Linked DNA regions of Homo sapiens: regions 2, 3, 4 and 5 are each linked to region 1. Evidence: fine-mapped expression QTL. A gene starts in region 1. Each other region holds a variant in brackets. All regions are shown on one strand. Distances are between the middles of the regions.

Region 1 (5,140 bases):
GGAACTGGAAGAAGATCCTAGCATCCGTCGCCAAGAGAACAACTTTTAGAAAGATGCGCAGATGGGCAATTATGGGTGAGGTTTAGTTTCCCTTTTAAAAAAATCTTTCACCAAGATCAGCAGTACTTTTGTAAAAATATTTTTCATCAGTTTATTTTAAGGAAATCATTTGTTATCAACAGAGGCAAATACAACAGAGACATGGGAGGATAAGGGCTGGGGACAATATCACATTTAGTGACAAAGAGATCGTGTGTGTCCCTGTAGAAACAAACATGTTTCAGCAGAACAGGGAAGCAGGAGAGGATTGGAAGGCACACGGGAAGACCCTGCAAGTGACTCATTGGCAGCACAGGGGTACAGGGAGGGGGAGGAGCGAGACAGATAAGGGGATTGTTTTCAGGAAAAAAGTTTAGAGGCACATTTGTTGAAGAAGGGAAGGACAATAAAGAGGGAAAGTTGGAAGATTTGTGTAGAAGTAGAAATCCTTGACCTAGCAGCAGAGAGAAAACAGGCAGGAGCAGGGCTAGGATCACAGATGTCAGCCTTGAAAAGCCAAAAACAGAGACCAGTCCTCTAATGTAGAGTGTGGTGGAGGTAAAAACCAGGAAAGGAGGCGGAGAGATTTTAAAGTGAATGGAGGAAACTTGAGGGTTGTCTCGTTTGAATGATTCAGGGAGTAACTGAACTTAAAGAACGTTTGAGAGGAGCTGGGAAAAGCAGAAAGGCAGTCTGAACATGGTTCACCAAACACAAAGGCTTTTTCTTCTTAAATCTTAGGTCTTAGACAGATACAGATAAACTTCCCCATGTCAGTAGGGGAATTACAATAGGTCCCAATATCAATCAAAAGAAGTTACATCTGAACCCACAGACCTTAACAAATACAGAGGAGACTAACAGGCTGGGCTATTATAGAGAACATGAACCACATACAAATCATAGACCCCTGGCACTCAGAGGGATCTCCAAAGGTCATCGGAGAATACACACATCCCTGGCAACACACACTGCCACACACATGCACCAATTACACTATGCTCTGTGTAGAAGGTTTAGACACCAGAAACTCTTCCATGGAAAGAAGGAGAGAGGCACCACATTAGATGGCCAGAAAACTTTGAATTGATGAGAAGGGAAAGGTGGTTCACAGGACAAAGCCTGAGAAAACTGCAGTTCCAAAAACATGCCCCAGTTCGATTGAACAGATAAAATATTGCATGAAGTTTGAGGATCTTTGCATCCAGTTCCCAGAATGATTATTTTAAATACGAAGAGATCGATCACAGGAAAAATAAAGGCTTCTGGATTCTTTGACCACATCAGGTCCCACAGGAACCATGGCCACATGAACTATGCACTTGGTGAGTACATAACATGACACTAGCCCATATTTCAGGACCTTTACTCTCACCTTGTATCCTATTTCATTGAAGTTATTTTTCTAATCATTAACTGTAGCAACAGAGAGAAAACATTCAATGTGGCAAAGAGAGAAGCTATGTCCCTTTGAGTCCATGCCTTCTCCACAAGAATCTCCTTGAAGTTTTTCATCAGCTGTGGCTCAAGGTGTCCCACACCTTGAGGAACGACGACTCTTCAGCACAGCTCTCAGCCTGCAGTTGCTGAAGAGCAGAATGATGGGGTGAACTGCTGCACACAGATAAATCACTGACTCCCACACCCAGAATTTAAAGTCCAGAGGTGGAAAAATACCTGCAGCACTGAACACCAGTGACAGGAAATATGAGATGAAGAGCATGGCAAAAGAGAGGAGAGCCAGCAGAGCCTTTATGTGTGCCTGCACACTGGGCTCTCGGAATCCTGAGGTTGTAAGGAGAGCCTTCTTCCTGTGTCTTCCCAGAGATGTGATGAGCAAAATCATGCAAATGAAAAAGACAGCAGTGGGCATTGTCCAAGTAATCATTTTTAGAGGGAAGAGATAGAATTTCTCACAGTAGCTCCGTATGCTATCGCCAGTGACATTCCAAGGTTGTAGATGGTTCCTTAAATAGTTCTGATACATTCTGTGGTTGCCTATGAAAAATAGAATGGTGGTGAAGCTGGAGAGCCCTACAGAGCTGAAGAGCATCCATGGTAGCCACCCAGACAACTTGTGCTTTAGCCAGAAGAAGACAGGGTGGGTGAAGGTAGCAATTTTCACACAATAGAAGACACTGAGCCAGGTAGAGGACCATAAGGTGGCAGCATTCAGGAAGTCCCACTGGAAAGCTAGAAACTGCAGTACAGGGTTGTATGGGAAGGCCATCGGATGCAAGAAAACATAAATGGTCTTACCCATTACCACTGACTGCAGACAGAAGCGAGAGGCCCCTAGGCTAACCAATAACTTATCACAAGGCAACAACATTCTCCGTAGCACCCACTCCACGCCCAGAGCAGCAGTGATGAAGCCATTGCCTGCTATTGCTACCAGGCGTAAAAGGAGTAAAATGGTAACCAAGATGATGGCCTTCTTGTCAGTCACCGAAGATCCTAGAACCATGTGGTCTCCATTCATCTCTCTGGTGGACAAGATGGGTCCCAAAACTTCAAGGGCTATCTCTGTTGGGTTGCTCTGGAAGGTCCTGTAGGATATGTTTGTCCCTCCAGCTGCCCCAAGCGCAGAAGCTAGGCCAGAGTAGAGGACGCAGGCTATCAGAGGAGGGTGAGAGGTTTTTTCTTCTCAGAGTAGATGCAAATATTGTCAAGGCTCAATTTTCAAAGTCCCCATACCTGCCCAAAAATTTGCCTGCTCTTCTGCCTATTCTCTGCCCATGTCAACATCAAAGTGGATAATATATCAGGCCCTGGCATTTAGTGTCCTTACACAGGAGGTTATACTTCTCTAAGCGGACACCTATGACAGGACCATGCACCTGCCAGCTCAGTAGTATCATCCGTGGGGCACACCCGCTACTGAGACAGCGCTCACATCCACGGGGGGGGGGTGATTGTTATGTTGCAGGCATTGTTCTGAGTGCTCTCCTTAGTTCTCACAACAACTCTATGCGGGGAGTAGTATGGCAAGACCCCTTTAACTGAGACAGAGAGAAAACTGAGCAAACCTTTACAGAGAAGGATTAATTCAAGTCTTATTACTCACAGTGACCATCATCATAAAAAAAGAACACTGGAGACAATTATACATAATGAGGCAGGCAACTTTTTTCAAAATTTAAAAATATATATTTGATAACTGGTGGCCTCTAAAATAGCACTTCACAGAGGAACCCCCAGTAGCGATAAGCCAATGGGATATGGCAGAATGAGCCCTGTGCTAGGAGTCGAGACAGCCTTTAGTCCAAACTTTACCCCTTACTGTGAGTTGCTGGATATGTCAGCCCCTCTGCGCCTCATTTTGTCCATCTGTAAAATATGAAAAGTATCCTATGTTCTAATTCACAAAGATGTCTTAGAATCTCGGCTTAGAATGAAAGAAGACATGAAAGATAATCTTACAGATAAAAGAAATAAGACCCCAAATTATATATTACAACTCCCACCTAAAGTCACAGTTACACAGAGGAAAGACCAAGATCCAAACTGATTCCAGGACCAGGAATCTCTGCCATGGTTAGCAATACATGTTACACCTCCATCTTCTTCATCCCTAGCTGAACTCAGAAGCCCAAGTTTTGAGTCTTGTCACAATCACTACGGATCCTCAAGCAGTTAACCTCTCTGAACACCCCCCTTTCTTCACCTATAAAAAATATGGGTCACAAATAAATATGACCATAAATATGGTAAATATATTGGAAATTATAAACCTCTGCATATGGACAAGGAGCAATGATGATGATGACAATTACTTTATTAGAATGGCTATCTTCTATTCCATCCATCCTGTGGCATAATAAGTAGCATAAGGAGAATTCAGGAGAGCATCAGGGATGCAACAGAAGTTCAGGGCACCAAATGTCAGACCACTGATATCAACCAGAGAAGGACAGAGTAAAAAAAAGACCACATTCTTTATAGAAATCAGCTTCAAAGAGTCAAAAAAATCAGCAATCAACACCCAGGTGAGTGTAAGTAGGTTAACGTGTCACAGGGAGATAGGAAAGCAGGAATTGTTCTGGGTCAAATACAGCAATATTGAAGGCTCAGGATCAAGTAACATGACAGTAAGGGGATTTGTAATGAATACACATCTGCTGACACCACAACCTACCAGTTCCATATATAGGACCCCCACAAAAAGGGAATAGAACGCATGTCAGCATCTCTTCCCAGTTCCCAGTCTACTTCCCAGTAGTCCACTTCCAGGTGGAATTGTTTCTTTAACACATACGCCAACCATAGTGGACATAGGTCTTCGGAGTAAAGGAAATAAGATGAACTAAGGTAATTCACTCTGCCTTTCTGTGAAGATGCAAATTTCCAGGAGATAGAGTTCCCAACTGCTCTCTTCCTTGCCCTTGTTCTTCTGGCTGACATTTGGCTGTTTTCTACTGGAACTTGGAGAAATGGGGCAAACTTCGGGCTTATAGCTCTGGAGTATGGCCACCTACAAACCGCCCAATATGGAAAACTTGAATCTTTTTCATCCACCTCCCACACCTTCAATGATAAAGATGTGCATTTAACCTTCAATTCATTTAATAATAATTTATTAAGCATATCCTATATGCCATGATAACCCTTTGAAAGACATTGGGCTACAACAGTGAATTAGATATCTGCCTTCAAAGCACTTTTATGGGCTAAACATAAACCACAAACATTTACTGGACATATACTATGTGCAGAGTAAGTTAATCCAAAAGAGGGAATAATCATTTGAATTTAAATATGCAATGTGTTTCGTGGTGATTCTTTTGTTGTTTGTTGTTTGTTTGTTTGTTTGTTGCATTTGGCTTTCTCATGTCTAGATTTATCTTCTTAGGTAAAAGTCAAGTCTGAGAGTTTTTAACTTTTCATAACCAGTCTTTATAAATGTAATCATGAGGGTAGTAGGATAGGGATCCTGAGTTAGCTCTCTATATGGAAAACCTTCAACTCAGTACTCTCAACAAGTGACTCCCAGTCTGTGGCTCTATGTGTTAGGGATCTTGCTATTCCCATCCCAAGATCTCTCAGAAGAGTTGAGAAGTAACAGCCCCATAATTGTGAGACAATAAAGATGCTGTCTTGC
Region 2 (5,140 bases), 810 kb after region 1:
TTATATATTTATCAACTGTGTAGAAATCACACAACTACAGGTGCCAGATATGGGTAAACGCTAAGGGTTATTACAAAATGTTAAGATTAGATCCTGCCATTTTAAAGACCAATTGGCCTCCCAGGATATCTGCAATTTTTTTGGTCAGTCAGTACCTAAACATCTCATCTGAAATATCCGGTGAAGCTGTGAGTCCCCACTTGATGAGCGGCAGATATTTTATAGAAAGATCCACATCACCCTCTAGTGGTCAAAGGAGCGAATTCATCCAATGCCCGCGGAGCTCTGCCTCGGCCTGCCTGAGTCGGGAGTGGCCCGCCCGGCAGCGAGGCAGCAAAAAGGCATTCCAGGTATCAGAGCGAAATTAAGAAAAAAGCAGCACTTGATGTGCTACCTGCCACATACTCCACAGCATTGTTACTAGCAATTACTTACACAATTATTCAGCCATTAGTCTAATGCCGATGGTGGTTTATCAGTGCATTTTGCCTCCCTCAACCTTTTATAGTCCCCCAAGGCAGGTGTGCTCCCTAAACCGCTATCCTATGCTCTCTGATCTTTTCATTGTAAACTGTATATCAAGGGATTGGAGGCACTTTCATTCTTCCAGTGATGCTAAATGTCCCAAAGGTGTGCTTCTTATCCAGATCCATTTTCTGAGTCCATGACTTGTACATCCAACTGCTCTCTGCATATTCCTGGTTAGATTACTGTCCCTAAGGCACTCCCAATCTCAAAGTAAATCTTGATCTTCTTCCCACTTGGTCCTTCTTATTTGTCTGTGTGTAGCAGTCTCTCTTAATCACCACCCACCACCCCCTGCATATTGCTGCTCATGTCTAATCAATTGCCAAGTCCTTTGATTTACTTCCTTTTAAATGTCTCATTTTCCCCATATTTCTAACACCATCATCATTATCTGAGCTAAACTACTGCTTGCCTGAGCTAAGTTTTTCCTCCGCATCAACTCTGTTCACACTGCTGGAGGGTGGCAGCATAAGCCTCCCAACCCTCTGCCCAAAATATGCCACTTTGGCATAAGGAATATTTTGAGCTAGAGGCATTAAAGACAATAGCAAGTATAAGAGGAGTACTCTGACCCTTCCCCTTTTCTTCTTGAAAAATGGAATAAGCTTCCCATATAAAAGATGTCTTATCTATACCAGGAAAAAAGAATATTCTTAACATCCAAGATAGAATGGGATGATGTTGAGGCCAAGGAATCTGTAACAAAAAAAGCTTGTTAAACTAATCCTCACCTTCCTAGTCACTTTGCCATTCAACCAGCAACCCTAGCCTAAGCCCCTTTACTTTTTCACCTTTCCACAATGTATGACCCTTTGCCCAATTCAATATATGAATGTTCAACTCTAACTGCACATTCAGTTCTTCCTTTAATTATGGGGGCTTTCATGTGATGTAAAACTTGTATTAAATACATGTGTATGCTTTCCTTCCTGTTAATCTTCCATTCTCAGGACCAGCCGAAAAACTGCAAGAGGGTAGAGGTAACATTTTGCCTTCCCTGCATGGTCCATTATTTCTTCACTTTGTGACCAGGGTGATTAAATACACAGATACACACACAGCCACGAATCTGATTACTAAAGAAGTCAAATGTTGAAAACCTCAGTGTCTCCTATTAAGCTTTATGTTGGATTCTGTATCATTTACCTTGACCAGTAAGGTTCTGAGTGGTCTGGTGCCTTCCTGCCTTCTTCAATTTTGCCCTGTACTCAACCACCTCCTCCCCCTGCTCCTGTCACTCTGCTGACTTCTTTCCTGTCATTAAACACACTAATTTCTTTCCTGATTAAAACATTTTGCACTGGTTCTTTAATCTTTCTTAAATGCCCTTGAATTCATTATCCCTCGTCCCACTTAATTAACTCTAGCTCATCTTGATGTAAGGTATTTAGGAATAATATTTAAAATTTCTTCCTATACCTTTTATTAAAAGGAGGATAACAATTAAATATGCAATATCAGGGGCTTCAGACTCTCCAGGGAGTATTTCATCAATAATTACTTTCAAGAAATTAGACATAGTTCATTTTTTAGGATAAAAGAGTCTTAACTGGTTTTCAAAAATGGCACCAGATAGGAGATTACAGATAAAAGACACTCACATATTTATGGGTAGTTAAAATTGACTACTGGTCAGTTAATAGGAGTCACACTGCTTTCCACATTCCAGAATGGAAAAACAGCAGCAGAGGTATGAAGTTGAGAAGTAGCTTATCAAATATTCATCTTTGGACACCTGAGATGGTGCATGTACTATAGCAAATGGGTTGAGACTCTGGGAAACCAGTTCGAGAGATTATTTTTGACATTAAGAATGGGGATATCCAAGGATATAGAGGAATTAGACGACCCTAGCTCCCTTGAAACCTCTGAAATTCTTCCCATGGCTTCTCCATTACTGGGAAAAACAGTGCCTCCGTGTGTGTGTGTGTGTGTGTGTGT[A/G]TGTGTGTGTGTGTGTGTGTGTTGGGGAGGAGGATGTAAGAGTCTGTCTCTTACCTCACCCATCACTGCCTCTGAAAGGTGAACTTGATTTTAAATACAACAAAGCACAGAGAGTAGAATATAAAATCAGAACAAAAAGTTCAACACTTCAAAAAGAATTGCTAATCAAAAATTTATGTCATTCAAAATTTACAGGAAATGTGATAGGATTTTATTTTGTTGGTACTTGTCCAAGGAAGACAGAACACAAATATGGACTGAATGCTGTTCAATGCTGTTGTCTCGTTTCCTAAGGTAATATAGGTAGGCAGTAGGCTGTGTCCTTGACAGTCAGCTGGTTTGGGAATGTCAGGTCTGAACCCAGCAGCGTTCCATGCTAAATGTCACCGAAACACTACACTCCTCAGCTTAACGTAGACGGAAATAGTGACTGCGTGAAATAGGAATGTAACCACTGTCTCCCTGTTTCATGCCAGAGCCTTAAAAGCTCTTGTCTTTTCCATGCCGTTAGTGAAGCAGTGGAATATTTTATAAGTATTTTACTAGCTCTGTTCTCCAGGCTGAAAACGCTAACAGAGTAAAAGGCTACAACTAAAGTGGGTCCTGAGATCAGTGGCAATGGCACAGTCTGAGGTGACTGAACCCAGGTGGGGTATTTAACCACCAGCAACACACGGTCATAGCGGAGACGAAAAGCAGCAGCGTGTTCACTGCAGAATTGGCTCCCATCTTGTTCCAGTCAGTTCCACCTTGGTCAGGGGCCAGGTGTCATCTCCACGCTTTCACGTTCACCCTTATTGTCTAAACCCCTGTTCTGTGTTGCAAAGGGTTGACAAGGGTCCAGGTCTGTTGGGTGGTAGGTTGTCCGCTGTGATTAATTCAGCAGCCGATATCTATATGAGGATGGTAGCAGTTAAGCCACTGCTATTTCACTCCTGGTTTTGACTATAAAATGCCCTTGATCCTTTTCTTGTAAGAACTCTAATCTATTCATTTATTTGTTTTCTCTTCTTTTTGATGCTATATGCATTCAATTTTATTTATCTTAACCTGTGGTTCATAACACACAGGCATTGCTTGTCAATGAATATTTTTAAAAAACATAATAGGAACTTGTAAAACTTCTCCTCCTCAACATTATGCAAGATAGACCTTGATAATATTTCAATGTATAGCCATATAGTTCTCTCTCATTCTATTTCCTGCCATGCCCCAGCCTTATAAAAATCCTGAACTTGGGTCATTATTATTCCCTGCCAGTAGTGTGTTGGTAAAGGGTAAAGGGTTGACAGCTAAGTCTGGAGGAAAATAAAGCAAACCGTAATTTGCTGTGTTTGCTAATTTCTGTAGTGTAAATACCCTCACTATGGCCAATTTCAAGCTAACAAAATGATGTCACTAAAACTGGAGTTGGGAAAAATGTATACAGTCAGCTCCCATGAGCTGATAAAGTAGGCTCCAGCATACAACTCATCTTTGCTTTCCTTTCAATATAATTTGTTCTAATATATTTTAGTCCTGAAAATTATTTTCTTGACTTGTTTTTAGCTTTATGAAAAGCACATTATGCTTTGCATAATCTCATTAGACTTAGTTTTTACATTTGCTATTATATTGCTAAGATTCACCTATAACCTTGCTCTTCACTATAGTTCATTCATTTTGACTCATATGAATATGTCACAGTTTATTCATTCACTCTTCTCAGTGCATATGTGGCTTGGTGCCATGTTTTTCTACTGTTTGGTGCTGTGAAGAACACTTTTTTATTTATGTCTTCTGATATGTGTATGCAAGAGCTTCTCCTGATGTAAACCTAGGAGTGGAATTGCTGAGTTATGGGATATAGGAATCTTCAACTACGAGATAATGCTGAACTGTTTCCAAATGGTTGATAGTACTTATGCTCCCATCAGTAATTTATAAGTAATCCTATGAATCCATACCCTCGCTAACATTTTATATTTCTAAACTTTTTATATTTTGCTAATCAAGTGGATATAAAACTATGTATCATTGTGTCTTGCTTCATATTATCCTGATCATCAATGAAGTGAAATATCTCTATATGTTTATTAGTCATATATGTTTATTCTATTAAATGTATGGTCATATGTTTTGCTCATTTTCTGTTGGTTCATACAGATTTGTGGTCAATGTAAATGTTTGGTTTCTCCTAGGAAAGGATTTTCACTGTTCCACTTACTGTCTTCTAACTACTGGCAGAACTTTCCAACTCTGTAGACAAGCCATGTTGTCTGAGGTCTTCCTTCTAGGTACCTCTGCCCCCTCTTCCCCTTGACACCTTTCCCAGGAGCCAGCTCACCAGCACCTTCCCTAGCGATACATTCCGTATGGTGTGTACCTAGGCATAGAGGGTGCTCCCCTCCCTTTGTACCGAGTCTTACTCTGTTCATTCATCAACCGAAACACCATGGAGAACATGATGGCGTTCAACATTTACAGGAAATGTGATAGGATTTTATTTTGGTGGCCTGGTCTAAGGAGGACAGAACACAAATTTGGAGTGAATGCTATTCAATGCTGTTGCTATCCTCCCCTAAGGTAACGTATTCATGCATAACTCTCTACTTGGCTGCCTCTTGGTTATCTTTGTCTTGAGAGCCCAGCATGATGACAAGAAAGCCAATCGCTGAAGTTTATTATAGGA
Region 3 (5,000 bases), 35 kb after region 1:
CTCTGTATACACATTTTAAAAGCATGTAAGTGTGGGAGTAGAGGGAGAGAGGGAGGGAAAAATACACGATGGTGTGTACACAGCGAGGAAGCAATCCTGGGAGGACTTACAAGAAACAGTTGATGGTGGTTAACTTGGGGAACAGAAATTAGAGTGTTGGAGGGCAGAGGGTTCTACTTCCCATTTTGTTTCTGTATGTTCAACATGAATTTCCTAACCAATGTACATGAATTACATTTATTTATGCAAATAAGGATAGTCTGAGCCAAGAACTGATGGGCCGTGTTTGTCATATACGTATCTGCATAAGAAAGCAAAAAAAAAAAACAAAAAACCTGAGAAGCATTACATTTTGAAAATGAGAAAAAGCACCTATAATCCACCACCTCCCTTCATTCACAGTACCGAAATGTGCAACAATGTAAATGATAGAAAAATTATGAACAATTTACCCAGATGGGATGGAGCGAAAGAAGGAGGGGCCAGGAGTGGACCCCCAGCCTCTTTAGTAAATGCATCACTCCCCTTTGAGCTACTGTGATCCCTGTGTGTACCTTGCCTGGGGTCCACTCCTGCCCGCCATTTCAATCATTTGTGCAATTATTTATGTCTCAACCCCCAGCATCCCCAAATTAATAGCTTATATAGGGCAAGACATTGTCCTTCTGTTCTTAGGTGCTTCTAGAGCTTCCTGCATGCATAGCAGAAACTGAACAAACATTTACTAAATAGAATATAAGAAAGTCTCGGCAGAGCGCAGTAACTCAGGCCTGTAATTCCAGGACTTTGGGAGGCAGAGGCAGGGAGATCACTTGAGATCAGGAGGGATCACCTAAGGTCAGGAGTTCGACACCAGGCTGGCCAACATGGTGAAACCCCGTCTCTACTAAAAATAGAAAAATTAGCTGGGTGTGGTGGTGCACGCTTGACGCTTGTGATCCCAGTTACTCGGGAGGCTGAGGCAGGAGGATCGTTTGAACCAGGGAGGCGGAGGTTGCAGTGAGCCAAGATTGCACCACTGCACTGCAGCCTGGGCCACAGAGCGAGACTCCATCTCAAAAAAGAAAAAGAATATAAGGAAGTCCGCAAGAAAGTGAGAGGGCACGTGGTTTGACACCACTAAGATGGGTTAAAATATCCTTCCCTGCCACCTGTGGCTGGAACCTTAACCAGATATTCATGTCTGCTGTGTAAGTGCATGTCAAGGTTCAAACTCCTTTTCTTGTTTACCCAGCCCTGGCCCACACCTGCCTTTCTGCCCTGATTCCCAAGACAAATCCTGCGCCCCAGCAGTCAAACTGGTCCATTCACCACTCCCTGGGCGCACCTTGAGGCTCCCTGCCTTCAGGCCCTTGCTGGTGCCTTTCCCAATCTCTGCCACTGAAAACCCAGGTCACACCAGCTCTCCCTGAAGACTCAACTAATGTGCCCCGATGACTGGGCTTGCTTCCTCTTCTAATCTCCAGATGCTTCACTGCAGGTTGTACCCCACCTTGCATTGTGGTCATCTAAGCCTCCCCTGCTAGAGGGTGAAGATATGACTCTTACCCCTTGCCTTCCCCGGCCCTATTACCCAGCTCTGGGGCCTGCACAAAGACAGAAAGAGGAATATAGGAGTGTAATTCAAGTCAGAGGTAGAATTAGGTTAAAAGCTGGATCAAGATTGGGTTGAGTTTAGGATTAGAATTGGGAAAAGGTTCGTCAATTCTTAATCCCACCTACTAGGCGGCGCCCGCAGTCTCATTCGGGTCAAGACGCCTCCGGTTCTTGAATTTGATTACCAGTCTAGCAAGTTTCTTTCCTGCCCTACTGTCCCTTTAAGGAGGTGAACCAGGTGAGGCCGGGACTCCGCCCCCGGCGCTGGCCCCGCCCCCCGCCCCCGCCCGGCCCGCCCGGCTCTCCTAGTCCCTTGCAACCTGGCGCTGCCATCCGGGCCACTGTCCCAGGTCCCGGCCCGGAGCTATGGAGCGGCGCTGGCCCCTGGGGCTAGGGCTGGTGCTGCTGCTCTGCGCCCCGCTGCCCCCGGGGGC[G/T]CGCGCCAAGGAAGGTACCGACCCCCGCCCCCGCGCCCCCAACCCCCGCGCCCCGCCCCTTCCCGGGGCCCGGCCAGCACCCCCCTGCAGAAGCCGGCATTCCTAGGGGCCATGTTCCCCGAGACCCTCGCCAGCTCTCTCGCTGTGCCCGACCGCCAGGCTATCGACTGGCCAGGCCCATCTTTGGTCTTTAACCCCAAGCGGCTGCTCTCCCGGGTCAGTCACCCCCACTCCCGCAGGCCAGCAATCTGCTCCTGGGAGTGGGGAGGGAATTCCGGACCCTTGCCAGGAAGTAGCACCTGCACCCGCACCCCTGCCTGCATTCCCAGACAGTCCCAGCTTCAGGTGCCCACCCCAGAGATCTGAGCCCTTGGAAGTTGAAGGTGGGAAGTCGCCTCCTGCCAACCTAGGCCAGGGACAGAGGGAGCTGCCTCCGGGAGAAGGGTTAGGACTGACGCCACAGGGGTTCCCAGTTGTCCGAGTCGAATATTCCATGTGAAAGTTGGAACACCCTCTCCGGCCTTACTCCCCCCCACTTCCCAGGCAGGTAGCTGTGCCTCTTATCCCCACTTCACGGCTCTGATCACTGGCCAGGTCAGGCCAAAGCAGGCTTCGGACAGTGGAGGTGAGCCTCCCTACCCAGGAAACCCCTTCTGAGGTCCCCGGTCCACCCTGCCCACTCCTGGCTAGCAGAGGTGAGCTCCTCCTGCCCTCCACGCGTTCCAATCCTGCAGCTGATGGGTGTCCCAGGACGCAGCAGCCTGGGTAACTGAGCGTCTCGTGGGGCTGCTCTTCTTGCATTGACTTTGGTCAAAGACCCAGCGCCCCAACCCTTGTCCCACTCTACCTGCCTTCCTTCACACACACAAAGAAGAGTGAAATCCCTGGAGCTCTTCACTCCTCAGTCCTGAGCCCTTTTTCTCCCCTAAGCCTCAGGAAGTCACAGCTTTTAGGAACAGGATGTTGCAGCCTGGGGCTGAGGCCCCAGAATGATTAATGTGGGCTGCAGGGGCACCTCCTCCCCCAGAGGTGACAGACTTCTTTTCTCCCCACTTTCAGTTACTCTGATGGACACAAGCAAGGCACAGGGAGAGCTGGGCTGGCTGCTGGATCCCCCAAAAGATGGGGTAAGTGTCGGAAGAGGGAAGGATCTTGGAAAACTCCTGAAGGCCAGTGGGAAATGGGGTGGAGAGGTGGGTGGAGGAACAGAGAAAAGAGCAGGAAAAACTGGAAGTGTCTCCTCAGGGAGGGGGAGAGGAGGCTGAGTCAGAGCCTCCTCAATGGGACAAGGGGTGGGGGGGTCAGACTTCACCTCAAGATGAACGCTTGAATGGCCTGGCTCCTCCAGTGAATACTTGGGAATATTGTGAATACAAGCTGATACTTGTGAGGGGGAGAGGAGCTCACATACCCGGGGAGAGAATGCACCATGCTGGGGATGGTTGAAGGCTGAGACCAGTGCTTTGCTTGGGGAGGGATAGAAAAGGCAGAAAAGCATCCTCAATCTGAGATCCATTCATCCCAATGAAGTTGCATTGATAGGTTTCAGGGGGTGGGGAAACCCCATGAAAGTGTACTCTAAATTCTGTATATGTAAGCGGGCATTTTTTTTTCTGGAGAGACCAGCCAAAGCTTTCATCAAATTCTTCAAAGGGTCTTTGACTCCTCCGAAGTTAAAAGCTGCTCCCCTAAAGGTTTCTGAGCCCTTAGCTCATCCTCCACACCTCCTCAGGCTGACTGCGTGCACACCATGCATTCCAGCTGTTTGAAAGTGTCAGAGCTTGTTCCAGTTCCCTTCCTTCCTTGGATGTTCCTAAGACTCAGTGAACAGGTTGTGAGGTGGGTCTGAGAGAGCATATTCAGACTCAAATGCAGAGAGCAGCTCTTATGATGTACAAAAAACCAAACTCAGTTTTTTCCTACTGCACTCTCAACACAAATCACTTCGGTGACCTGTGGTCACCAAAATGCGTGTAGGGATTCCTCCCGCCTGCAGTCAGTTCTCTCTGGCAGATTCTTCAGTGGACAGTAGCTGAGTGTCCTCTAATCTTATTCAGTTCTTACACTATCTACCTGGAGATAGCCTCAGGTTGAGGGCTCAGCCCCACAAGACTGCCCTCCTCTAGACAACAATCACAAGTAACATGTTGTCACCTATACTTCTGTTCCATCGGCTGTAATCAGGTTTACCTGACCCTCCTCCTCGGGTTCAATTAGTTTGCTAGGATGGCTCACAGAACTCAGGGAAACATTGACTTGGATTTACTGGCTTACTATAACGGTTATTACAAATGGTACCATGAACACCAGATGGAATAGCTGCATGGGGCAAGGTATATGTGAAGGAGGCGAGCCACCCTGCAGGGACCTAATCATGTATGGCCATCCAGAAGCCCTCCCAACCCCATCCTTCTGGGCTTTTATGGAGACTTCATTACATAGGCGTGATTAATTAGATCATTGCCCACTGGTTATCAGCTCAACCTTCAACCTCTCTACCTTCCCTGGAAGTTGGGGGTGGGGCCGAAAGTCCCAACTCCAATCACAAGGTTGCCTTCTGCCACCCAGGCCTCCCCCACCCCAGTCTAGTTCCCATCCCCGGCAGTCAGCTCACTAGCATATAAAAAGACATTTGTCACTTCAGGGATTTTGAGGGCTTTAGGGGTTGTTTGCCAGGAAATGTGGACAAAGACCAAATATATATTTTACAATTCACAGCACCCTTTCTGCCAGCAGCACAGCTGGTCACAGAACCACTTAGGGGGCTGCCTAAGTTACTGGAGCATCTACAACTCTGGCTCTGGAACCCCTTCTCTCAGGGTTTCCTTCCTTACCCCAGTACTTGAGACTTCAATCCAGCCCCTGTTTCTGGGGTCAGGGTTACTTGCTTTCTTTCCCTCTGGGTCCTACAGTCCTGGCTCCGTTCTCTGTTCTCCTACAGAGTAGCCTGTAATTAGAGCTAATAGACTA
Region 4 (5,140 bases), 53 kb before region 1:
GAGACATGACACAGATTCTGTCCCATCTTTACAGCCGAGCCCGTATCAGGCTGGGGAAACTGAGAAGGGCCTTTCAAAAAGAATCAAATAGGCTGCTTTAGAAAAATATTCCACATCGGCCAGGTGCGGTGGCTCAAGCCTGTAATCCTAGCACTTTGGGAGGCCAAGGTGGGCCGATCACCTGAGGTCAGGAGTTCAAGACCAGCATGGCCAACATGATGAAACCCCATCTCTACCAAATATACACAAATTATCCAGGCATGGTGGCGGGTGCCTGTAGTCCCAACTACTTGGAGGCTGAGGCAGGAAAATCACTTGAACCCAGGAGGTGGAGGCTGCAGTGAGCCAATATTGTATCACTGCATTCCAGCCTGGTTGACAGAGTAAGACTCTATCTCAAAAAAATAAAATAAAATAAAATAAAATAAAATAAAATAAAATAAGAAAAAGAAAAGGAAAATATTCCATGTGCCTTGGGTTTAGTGCTCAGAATCTGATTACCTTGTAGCTGCTTGGTGCTGCGGTGTGCCCTGTCCTGGCTGCGTTTCAGCAGGACGAGCTGAATAATGAAGAGAAGAGATGCCCAATTCTCTGTCCAAGATGGACACCATATGGAGAATTGCAGGCACAAGGATAACACTTAGAGAAAAACAGATCAATCTATATTTTCTTTATTAATTCCAAATTTCTGAAGCCCTGAGGCACCTACATCAAAACCCACAACCTTTGGATTTGAACACTGAGATTTTGATAAACTAGGGAACTCAGGATATGACATAAGGGAAATCTTCCATTTCATGAGAGGGCAAAACCTTCTCTTTCTGACACAGACTTGGGAATAAATAAAGGAAGAGAAAGGTAGAAGAAGCAGACATTCAAATATATGTGTTCTAAACAGCCCTCCAAGGGACTGAGGCCCTGAGGATGAAGAGATAGGATAAGAAGAGGCCAAAGGTGGAAATACTTTCCTGATCCCCATTTAGAGCCCTACCAAGAGACTGTTGTTCAGGGTGACCTAGAAACTCCAAAGATGTTGAGGGACGATAGAAAAGCAGCAGTGAAAGAGGATGGCAGGCAAGCCAATCTGAGCATGCTCCTGGCTCCCTAGAATATGGAATTCATGCCTCAAGTTCCTGTTTGTCTCGAATGGGAGGTGCAGATACAGGAAGCAGCTGGGAGCTCAACCAAAGAACATGCCAGAGGGGATCAGCTTGGTGGAGAAAATGTGGCCATATCACTGAGAGCTACAGAATGGACTTCCCAACTCAGGGCTCCAGAAGAAATCAGTCATGTCTGGGAGGTGATGTGTGTGTGTTTGGGGGAATCACAGCATTGGAAAACCAGAAGTGGGACCATTTCAACAAGAAGATGGCCACCAAGCCTTGACAAAGCCAAGACAACAAACAGTCCATGGGTTCCTTGGCCACAGCCTCCAACAGTGGATGACACAGGTTGGATCCACATAAACTATGTCTCAACAGAAACCTGCCACGTGAATAAGCAAAGATTCGAGTGGTTGTCCAGCTGCAGAAGCCAGCACCAGGACCAGCACAAAACAAGAGTGATTCTACATATCCATTCAAAGCCCCACAAGTCAGTACTATCAGGTTTTGTCTTATGCCCAGAAGCCCTGTTGATAAGGAAGAAAAAGAAATATACCACTCTGATATAAGGTAGAACTTCAAATTAATTAAATATTTACCTGGAAAGATCATTTTAAGTTAACAGAGACCATTTATACTGTAAAAAAACTAAGATACCTTTAATTGGTATATTATATTGTTTGCTTTTTGTCTTCTTTCTACAGTACCCAACAGAATGGAGACTCAAGAAAATAATATCATTATAGAAAACAAAATAGCTACGTCTTCAGGGAACATCAGTAAAGAGTATTCAAATTCATTATCCTAGCATATAGACAAGTTGATCTTGAAGTAAAAATTGTCCTGGACTTCATGTTTGCACTTGTAATTTATTAAGGAAAGACTTCTTTTCTAGAAATGGAATGCATAATGCCCGTTCAATGTTAATACATAATAAGGAAATTATGTAAAGTTTCAATTAGATGATTCTTATAAAGCTTTTAGTATTCATTGAATTTTAGTTACTCATCCTCATTAAGTGTTTTCCCCTAAGTCATTTATGAGAAAAGACCAAAGCATAGAAATGCCACTTTAAATTTTTCCTACATGTAGAGATAGGAAACAGAACAGTATTCTAACTCAGTCATGCCAGAGCTAATTCATGATGAGTTGTATCCGAGGCTGTTGAAGCTGCTGTCAAGCATAGCAGTCATCAGTTCCGGTAAAATGCTTCCCAGAAGGTACCTTTTACATTCACTGGGAAAGATGAGGAAACGTTAATTCTGGTAAAAATGGAATGGAAAGAACTGAATGGAAAGGTTAGTAACTGAGAACCAGAAATAGTAGTTCCCTGGGAGTGAACTAAATTATTGCTAGTAACAGGAAACTCTTGAGGCAAGGAGATACTGGGGTGGGGAAGGAGAGAGTAGGAAAGTGGTTAGTGGTGGGGCAGTTCCAAAGGAGTGAAAGAGGGGAAAGACCCAGGTGAGCAGCATGCCTGGGCCCACACAGATATCACAGGAAATCAATTATGTCCAAGGCTGTGGGTCTTTCATTGCCTTCTTTAGTGAAACTCCTGGTATTGGTCAATCTCAAAGGAAATGATTCTTCCCCTCTCAAGTCCAGTTTGGAACTCATGATGGAATGACTTTAGTCTCAGACCTCAGAATCTAGTA[C/A]CTAGAATGAAAGGAAAATGTTGTAATGCACACACTGAAAAACACAGACTTCTGCAGGACCTTGAGGTCCAATTCCACCATTTGGTTTCACAAACAAAGAAACTAAGACCCAGGGAGATTAGGTGACTTGTCAAAAGTCATAGAGCAATTTGTACCAAAGCCGGAGTAAAACCCATTGTCCTGCCTCTAGTCCAGGGTGTTTGCCACCATAGAATATTTCCAGATTTATTTTTTATGGTATAAATAGTCGAAAACCTATAGTTATATCTACTTTGCTGAGATACAGTTTTAATTGTATCTTTCCTTGAATGCTCACTTATGTTGCCCAAAGGCTATTCAGTAGTGCCAGGCATTAAGACAGCAAATTCATTTCCTAATATCACTATCTCAATGCGATACGTCTATATCAGATATGTGAATTTTTTAAATTTCATTTGGATTCCTATGAGAGAAAAAATATGTGTTTATTATAAACATTTAAAAATATTTGTAACAGTTTGTTCTCTCATTGTTATAAAGAACTACCTGAGACTGGGTAATTTATTAAGAAAAGAGGTTTAATTGACTCACAGTTCCACAGACTGTTCAGGAAGCATGGAGAGGAGGCCTCAGGAAACTTATAATCATGGTGGAAGGCGAAGTGGAAGCAGGCACATCTTACACGGCCAGAGCAGGAGGAAGAGAGACAGCGGGGAGGTGCCACACACTTTCAAATAACCAGATCTTGTGAGAACTTAACTCACTATTGGAAAACAACAAGAGGGAAATCTGCTCCCATGATCCAATCACCTCCCACCAGGCCCCTCCTCCAACACTGGGGATTACAGTTTGACATGAGATTTGGGCAGGGACACAAATTCAAGCCATATCAATATTGATAAGCTAAAAATAAGAAAACAAAAATATCTATAATCCTATCACCCAGAGATTAACCCACTGACATTTTATGGTCATCTTGCCTGTTCTTTTTCTACTTTTCAATCTTTATATACATCCAACTGTATATATATTATATTTCCTACTATTTTCTAACCTACTTTGTAAAAAAAAAAATCTAGTTACATATTTTCTGTAACCTTAGTGCTTGGAAAAGTAAGAAGGATGCATTTTTCTTTTTTACCAGCAGGGAAACATTCTTATTAGATGAGAGTAGGAGGTAGTGTGGAGGATGGTTCCCAACAGTTCTTTTCCTTTACACTGGAGTCATCTGTGTCAGCTCATACCGAGTCTGCCTTTGAAGTGCATCAGGGGTCCCACCTCTCAGATGTCATTTTCTTCTTCTTCCCCCTCATGGTGCCCTTGGTTTTCTTTTTACTGCTGCTCTCCTCCTTAACCTTTGGCTACAACTCTCAGTCAGAAGTTCTAGCAGTTTTCTCCATCCACAGACCTTGAGGTGGGGAAAGCTTCAGGCCCTGTGAGGTCCTGAGCTTACCTGGGCAGTGGAAGCAGCAAAGATAAACCCAAGATTCTTCAGGTCTTGCCCAAAGGGGAAGAGCATGAAGTTAAACAACAGTTCCCTAGTCCATTGTCATTACAATGACAAATCTTCCAGGTAAGTAAACCTTTATCTTGCAATATTGGCCAATTGTTATAAAAAAAATTTAGTGGGTTACACACTGATGTCTCTCTTTTTTCTCCCCATTTTACCAAAGACTCATGTTCTATTACTATAGAAATAAATAGTTAAATATTGGGAATAAAACCTCATCCTGACCCATTGTTTCCTCTGCTCCTTCTAGTAATTCCAGTGAAGAAATTAAAACTTTGTGGAAGATGGCCAAGAACCGGGAGATCAGTATTAGGAAAGCTGATAAAGAAAAAACTTCTAGTAATATGAAAATATGCAAAGGAAACACAACAGGAATGTGATGTGGGAGACCATCAAAGAACCTGCAGAACTATTTTAATGACTGTGAACTTGAGACTTCTCAATGGCTCCCAGGCCATGGATGTGATGATTCTAATGTGCGATGTGTCCTCACCACTCTAAAACTAGATGTCACTGTCACTAAAACTAGGTGTGTGGGAGGAGGGGTGAAGGTGCTTTCATTTTCTTCCTTTAGGAAGGAGACCAGGTTCTAAAATTTTAGTTTCTCTTTCCTATCTCAATTACTTTCAGTCCCTTCTCACCAGGTCAGAAAAGTAAATGTTTCTGAATCCCAACTTCTACTAAAAGTCCTCAGTGATGCCACAGCATTGAAGGGCAGTAAAAGATATAAAAGAGTTACAGAAGGGCTCATTATGCTAGGAACTAGAAGGACAATTAAAAGTTGAAATAAAATGTTTTTAGAATATGTATTCCACAGGGAACTTAGTAGAGGAGGGAGCTGTGGTTGCAGAGAAGTAGCTGTGGGGAAGAATGAGTAAGAAACACACCAAGAG
Region 5 (5,106 bases), 26 kb after region 1:
ATGATGATATCGTTTTTACAGAAGGCATTGCTGGGGGACAGAGATGGAGGATGCATTCCATCCCACAGCCCACTGCAAATCTTCATAAATGCCCCTTCCGTATCTTGGCCGTTTTTAACCAATGCTGTCCTCCCGAGCATCTGAATGACTCTGCCTGCTTCCTGACCTTTTCTCAACAATCCTCATCCAGGCTTTTCTGGTTCCCTGCCTGTCAGTCTCCATTGCCAACCCCATCACTCAAAGTCTCCCATCGGCCAAACAAAATCCTAATTCGTCACCATTGTCTCTAAAGCATTTTCCCAGAGGTCAGAAATTTATTTCCAGCACCCCTACTTTCACACTGAGGTAAGGTTTTTTTGAACCAAAAATATAACTACCAATCTGAATATGGTTATTGGTTAATTTCCCTCACCTCTATATCTAAGCAGCCAACATACCCTGTCATACTACAAGTGAAATGTCACTCATCGCCTCCCTCTATCCACTCATTGCCCAAGTTTGAGCTCTTACTGTTTCTTCCCTGGATCATTATCTCTCTGATTCCAGTCGCTGCCTCTTCCAGCTCTTCCCCCATTCAGCCACCAGAGCCCAAAATGCTCCTCTGAGCACGTGTCTCCCATATTCAAAATTTTACTGGTTCCAGGTTAGATAGGGAAGAAAGTTCAAAAAAAAAAAAAAAGAAAGAAAGAAAGTTCAGTGTAGTTGGTCACCGAGGCTGACTCCAGCCTTAGCCCATCTCCCAGTTCCCCCTCTTTAGCCCAACTCAGCCAGTCACACCACCCTGCACGCCATTCCTTGGACAAAAGCCATTTTCCCATTTCGTACAGGCATCGAGCTGCTGATGCTTGTGTGGGCCTGAAACATTTGTCACACAGCTGACTCTCCCCAGCCCCTGCACAGTCCTGGAAACCCCGCTTCAAGCCCTCTCATCTCTTATTTAGACCAAGACAACAGCCTCCTAACCTACCCATGCTTCTGCCCTCAGCCCTCCCCTGCCTTGCCCCATCTGTGTTCTGCACGCTGGGCAGGTTGATCTCTTCAAAGGTAAGTCAGAGAATATGCATCTCCTTTCACTGGACTCCCTCTAATGGCTTCCATCTCACTCAAAGTCAAAGCAAAAATCTGTGAAATAGCCTGGGAGGCCTTAGGTGTGCTGCTCCCCATCCAACCCCTATGACCATCTCCCTCCTAAAGCTCTGGCCTCCCTGTCCTTCCATGAACCCCATGCATGCCTGCCCTGGACTTTAGGGCTGTTTCCTTGGTCTGGATTGCTCTTCCCTCTGATGACTTTTGTAGCGCATTCTTTTCCTCCTTCAATTCTTTGCTCAAAAGTTACCATATCTGTATAATAGAGCCCTCCTTATGTGATTCCTATTCCCCTAACCCTGTTTTAATTTTTCTCCCAGTGTGTCTCACCATCTGAAGAATGCATTTTGTTATTTTTTTATGTACTGTCTGGCTCCTCCCCCTAGAATGTACACTCAGGGAGGGTGGGGTTTGGGTTTTTTTTTTTTTTTTCTATTTTGTTGTTTGCTGGTATATCCCCAGCACTTAGAACAGTGCCTGACTCATAATAAGATCTCAATAAATTTTTGTTGAATGAATGAATAAAAACTGCCTATTGAAGTCATTCTACTAGGCTCAACACAAAGGCCACCTTTTCCCATACAGTTCCTGTCAAAATTAGCCTCCTGTATTCCCTTGGCCACTTGCTTCTGCCTCCACCTTAGGGCTTACCTCTTTCACATGGTGCATCCCCCTCCCACAGAGGTGCTCCTGGAAGGTAAATGAGTCCATTTGCATGTGAAGAAGCTCAGTCTCAGAGAGGTTAAGAGAAATGTCCAAGGCCTTACACATAGGAGGCAGAGAGCTAGGAGTCTACAGAATCCAAAGGCCACTAAATACCCATTCCATTAACTCCTAGTGCTTCTCAAAAACAAACAAGAACTTTCTAAGCAAACACTCAGTACGGTGGGTATCAGGTTTTAATTTTGGTCTAATATTTAGTACTTCCCCAGAACTGTTGAAACAAAGAAGAAAGGAAGGAAGAAAGGAAGAGAGGGAGGGAGGGGAAAAGCTTCAGTCACTTCTTAATTGAGGCTCTGTTCAGACAACACAGCAGCTTCAGTGTAAGAAGACTTAATCAGAGCCAGGTGCGGTGGCTCACACCTGTAATCCCAGCACTTTGGGAGGCCGAGGCGGGCGGATCACCTGAGGTCGGCAGTTCATAGACCAGCCTGACCAGACCAGCCTGACCAACATAGAGAAACCCTGTCTCTACTAAAAATACAAAAAGGTAGCCAGGCATGGTGGCACATGCCTGTAATCCCAGCTACTTGGGAGGCTGAGGCAGGAGAATTGCTTGAACCTGGGAGGCGGAGGTTTCGGTGAGCCGAGACGGTGCCATTGCACTTCAGCCTGGGCAACAAGAGTGAAACTCCGTCTCAAAAAAAAAAAAAAAAAAGGATTGCTTAAAGCCAGGAGTTCAAGACCAGTCTGCCAACATAGTGAGAGCTCATCTCTTCAGAAAAAAAAAAGTTAGAGTGTAAGCATCTCTCTCTAGCTTACAACCTAACAGACACACTACAAACAGTGGGCACCATTTTTTTCCCAGCCAGCGCCTCCTAGGTGACTT[G/C]GTTTCTGGTTTTTTCATATGTATCCAAAGCAGAAAGCCCAAAAGTGAGGCAACATGGTGGCACACCCCACCCTCCCTTCCTCACCTGGTCAAAAGTCTATCATTACTGTGATGACTAGGTCAAGTTAAGAAAGCTACTTCCTAGCCTAAGGGCCTACCATCTTTATAATAGTAGGAATATATAAAAATCGCTGTCACTTTCATATCATGTTGATAAATATTCCCATGGTATTCTAAGATTTTATAAACAGAAATTATCTGTGGCTCTCACACCCAGAATTTGAAGATATAGGTGCAATTACCAAATTTTCCCACTAGGTGGCTCTCATAGTTTATGACCCATGGCCTGGATCGCCTAAACTCAGGGATAGATTTGGAAATGTGTACATTAATTTCTTAACAGAGGTGGTTGTTATCTATATGTTCAAATGTGTCTGTGTCTGGGTAAGTAGATTTATAATACTTTCAAACTAGAACTTGTTAGAAAAAGATATAAATTACCCTATTACGATCCCTTTATAAATAACTTCTTCAAAGCAAAATGTAAAAGAAATCCAATCTGTGCCCAATTAAGAGGTCCCATACTTATCAAATACTTCTTTTACAAGACAACAATATAATATTACCTCCTGACAACAGAACCAGTAACTTCAAATAGTAAGCATGGGTTATGCCGATCTTCTTCCCAACCCTCTGTAGAAGTTACAAGAACTCCTAGCCTAGCTAGAAATAAAACTGAATGTTTTTCAAATAAATTATGCTTGCTTAATGCAGAAGACAGAGCTGATAGTTTATTTCAGCCCTCTCTTCTCGCAGGCTAGCTAAATTAAAATGGACTTCAAGACATGGCTGATTTATCACTTTCTCTTTCCCTCCTGAGCTCCAACCAGTACACTTTTTGACAAGGACCAAGCTATCGCTGTGCTCCCGGGGGATTCCAGTATTTAACACTTGTCTCAACCTGTTCTTATTAAATTTCTGTCATGCCCCAGTTCACTGAGACACATTTGTTCTCTTCCTTTCCCTCCCTCACTTCTACCAGCCCAAGCATTAAGGCAGCGTATTAACTTCTCAGGTTAGCAACACTATCTTCTCAGGCAGTCAAGCAAACAAGTTCAGGTGGAAACACAATGATTTCTCATGAGACGCGCACAAATATCATCGTAAGATATTTGAGTCACAGCCACTTCACATGACTAACCCCTCCACATTTTCATTTCATGACTCAAGAAATCAAATGAAATATTAGAACAATTGGGAATGGTTTTATTTGTACTTTGGTATGAGATATGTGCGGAATGGGGGTAAGGAAGGTATTGAGATAAAGGCTTGTATCTGAATACACACTTGGATATAATGCACAACCCTGTGTGAATTCCCGTTTGACTCCCTTTTTCTCTCCCAACAGCTCCAGAAACGAGCCCATCTCACTCCCTGTGGCTGCTACCATCCACCCTTCAACTTCAGCTTCCCCTTCCACGTGTCCCATCACTAGAATGCAATGCAGGTTCACAGCTTGTCAACTACCTTCTTGTCTCTAAAACAAAGAGAATGATTTAGAGGATGTTAATACTGCAGAGATACATTTAAAAAAAATCAGCACAGGGAGAATTGCCATATGTCCTGAAAATGTTAGAGTGGTATTTATTTTATTTTCATATTGCATCATAATGTAAATGGGTCGAAAGTGATCTCTCTTAGCATCTTTTTTTTTTTTTTTTGAGATGGAGTTTTGCTCGTTGCCCAGGCTGGAGTGCAGTGGCACAATCTCAGCTCACTGCAACCTCCGCCTCCTGGGTTCAAGCAATTCTCCTGCCTCAGCCTCCTGAGTAGCTGGGATTATAGGCGCCCGCCACCACACCCGGCTCTCTTACCTTTTTCTTTAGTTTTCTCTTGCCTCTTCTTGAGATTGAAGCTTCATCCAAACATCCCTTTTAATCCAGAGGCTGGTGCTACTTTCAGCAGACTTTATCCTTAATTCCCTCAAACCCATCTTGCAAATAAACCTGTACAGGAGGACACAAAAATAAAAAACATGTATCCTTAAATTGCATGGTGCCACCAGAAGCTTTTGCTTGTACACTTTCTCATATTTGTACTTTTCTCATATACTATGACCAACAACATTATCATCATTTCCCCCATTTTGCAGATGAGGAAGCGGAGTCTCAAAACAGCTAGGTGATTTGCCCAAGATCACTTGGCTATGAAGTGACAATATTAAAATCTTCTAAAATATAACTTTGCTTTTGACACTTCAGAGAAAACTTCCAACCGCCTCTATCTCAAAACAGTTCTATTTCTAGCAAGAAGACAGATTCCTAAACAGTATCGGGTGTCTTCCTCTTAGCAAACTGACTGGAAGAAGGGAGGACATGCAGGGTTTAAGGGGGAGGGTGTATAATTGGGACCTGTGGCACTGCTTACAGACCGCCTCTGCATACTTTTAATCAATTAAAAAGTTGTTAGGA

Alleles and levels. Alleles are on the strand shown, and positions count from the first base shown. SD is a standard deviation of normalised expression in the study named. Not every link is listed here.
As copies of C replace A in region 4, the expression in sun-exposed skin of the gene that starts at base 2,521 in region 1 goes down (large effect, 1.1 SD a copy in GTEx).

What was found. PIP is the estimated chance that this variant, and not a neighbour inherited with it, causes the effect.
Region 2: its variant is fine-mapped to the expression of TAS2R60 in neutrophils (BLUEPRINT, PIP 0.95).
Region 3: its variant is fine-mapped to the expression of TAS2R60 in whole blood (TOPMed, PIP 0.98).
Region 4: its variant is fine-mapped to the expression of TAS2R60 in sun-exposed skin (GTEx, PIP above 0.99).
Region 5: its variant is fine-mapped to the expression of TAS2R60 in whole blood (TOPMed, PIP above 0.99).

Annotation. Positions count from the first base shown.
Region 1 is chr7:143,440,834-143,445,973 of GRCh38, reverse strand. TAS2R60 (taste 2 receptor member 60) reads right to left here and starts at 2,521. Exons shown (of 1, transcript NM_177437.1): 1 at 1,565-2,521. The coding sequence starts at 2,521. The coding sequence ends at 1,565. All of the region lies in intron 2 of EPHA1-AS1 (EPHA1 antisense RNA 1), which reads right to left.
Region 2 is chr7:142,627,805-142,632,944 of GRCh38, reverse strand. It overlaps TRB. Among named protein-coding and RNA genes, the nearest start is that of PRSS1, 120 kb to the left of the region's middle. RefSeq lists an enhancer at 98-392. The variant A/G (reference allele first, on the strand shown) is at 2,470.
Region 3 is chr7:143,405,768-143,410,767 of GRCh38, reverse strand. It overlaps EPHA1 (EPH receptor A1), which reads left to right and starts at 1,912. Exons shown (of 18, transcript NM_005232.5): 1 at 1,912-2,044; 2 at 3,090-3,157. The coding sequence starts at 1,963. It overlaps EPHA1-AS1 (EPHA1 antisense RNA 1), which reads right to left and starts at 2,955. Exons shown (of 5, transcript NR_033897.1): 1 at 2,882-2,955. RefSeq lists an enhancer at 1,228-1,840. The variant G/T (reference allele first, on the strand shown) is at 2,031.
Region 4 is chr7:143,493,585-143,498,724 of GRCh38, reverse strand. All of the region lies in intron 2 of EPHA1-AS1 (EPHA1 antisense RNA 1), which reads right to left. LOC105375547 (a long non-coding RNA gene) reads right to left here. Exons shown (of 2, transcript XR_928075.3): 1 at 3,329-5,140; 2 at 1,953-2,759. Among named protein-coding and RNA genes, the nearest start is that of TAS2R41, 18 kb to the right of the region's middle. The variant C/A (reference allele first, on the strand shown) is at 2,759.
Region 5 is chr7:143,414,603-143,419,708 of GRCh38, reverse strand. EPHA1-AS1 (EPHA1 antisense RNA 1) reads right to left here. Exons shown (of 5, transcript NR_033897.1): 2 at 4,510-4,641. Among named protein-coding and RNA genes, the nearest start is that of EPHA1, 8.3 kb to the right of the region's middle. The variant G/C (reference allele first, on the strand shown) is at 2,636.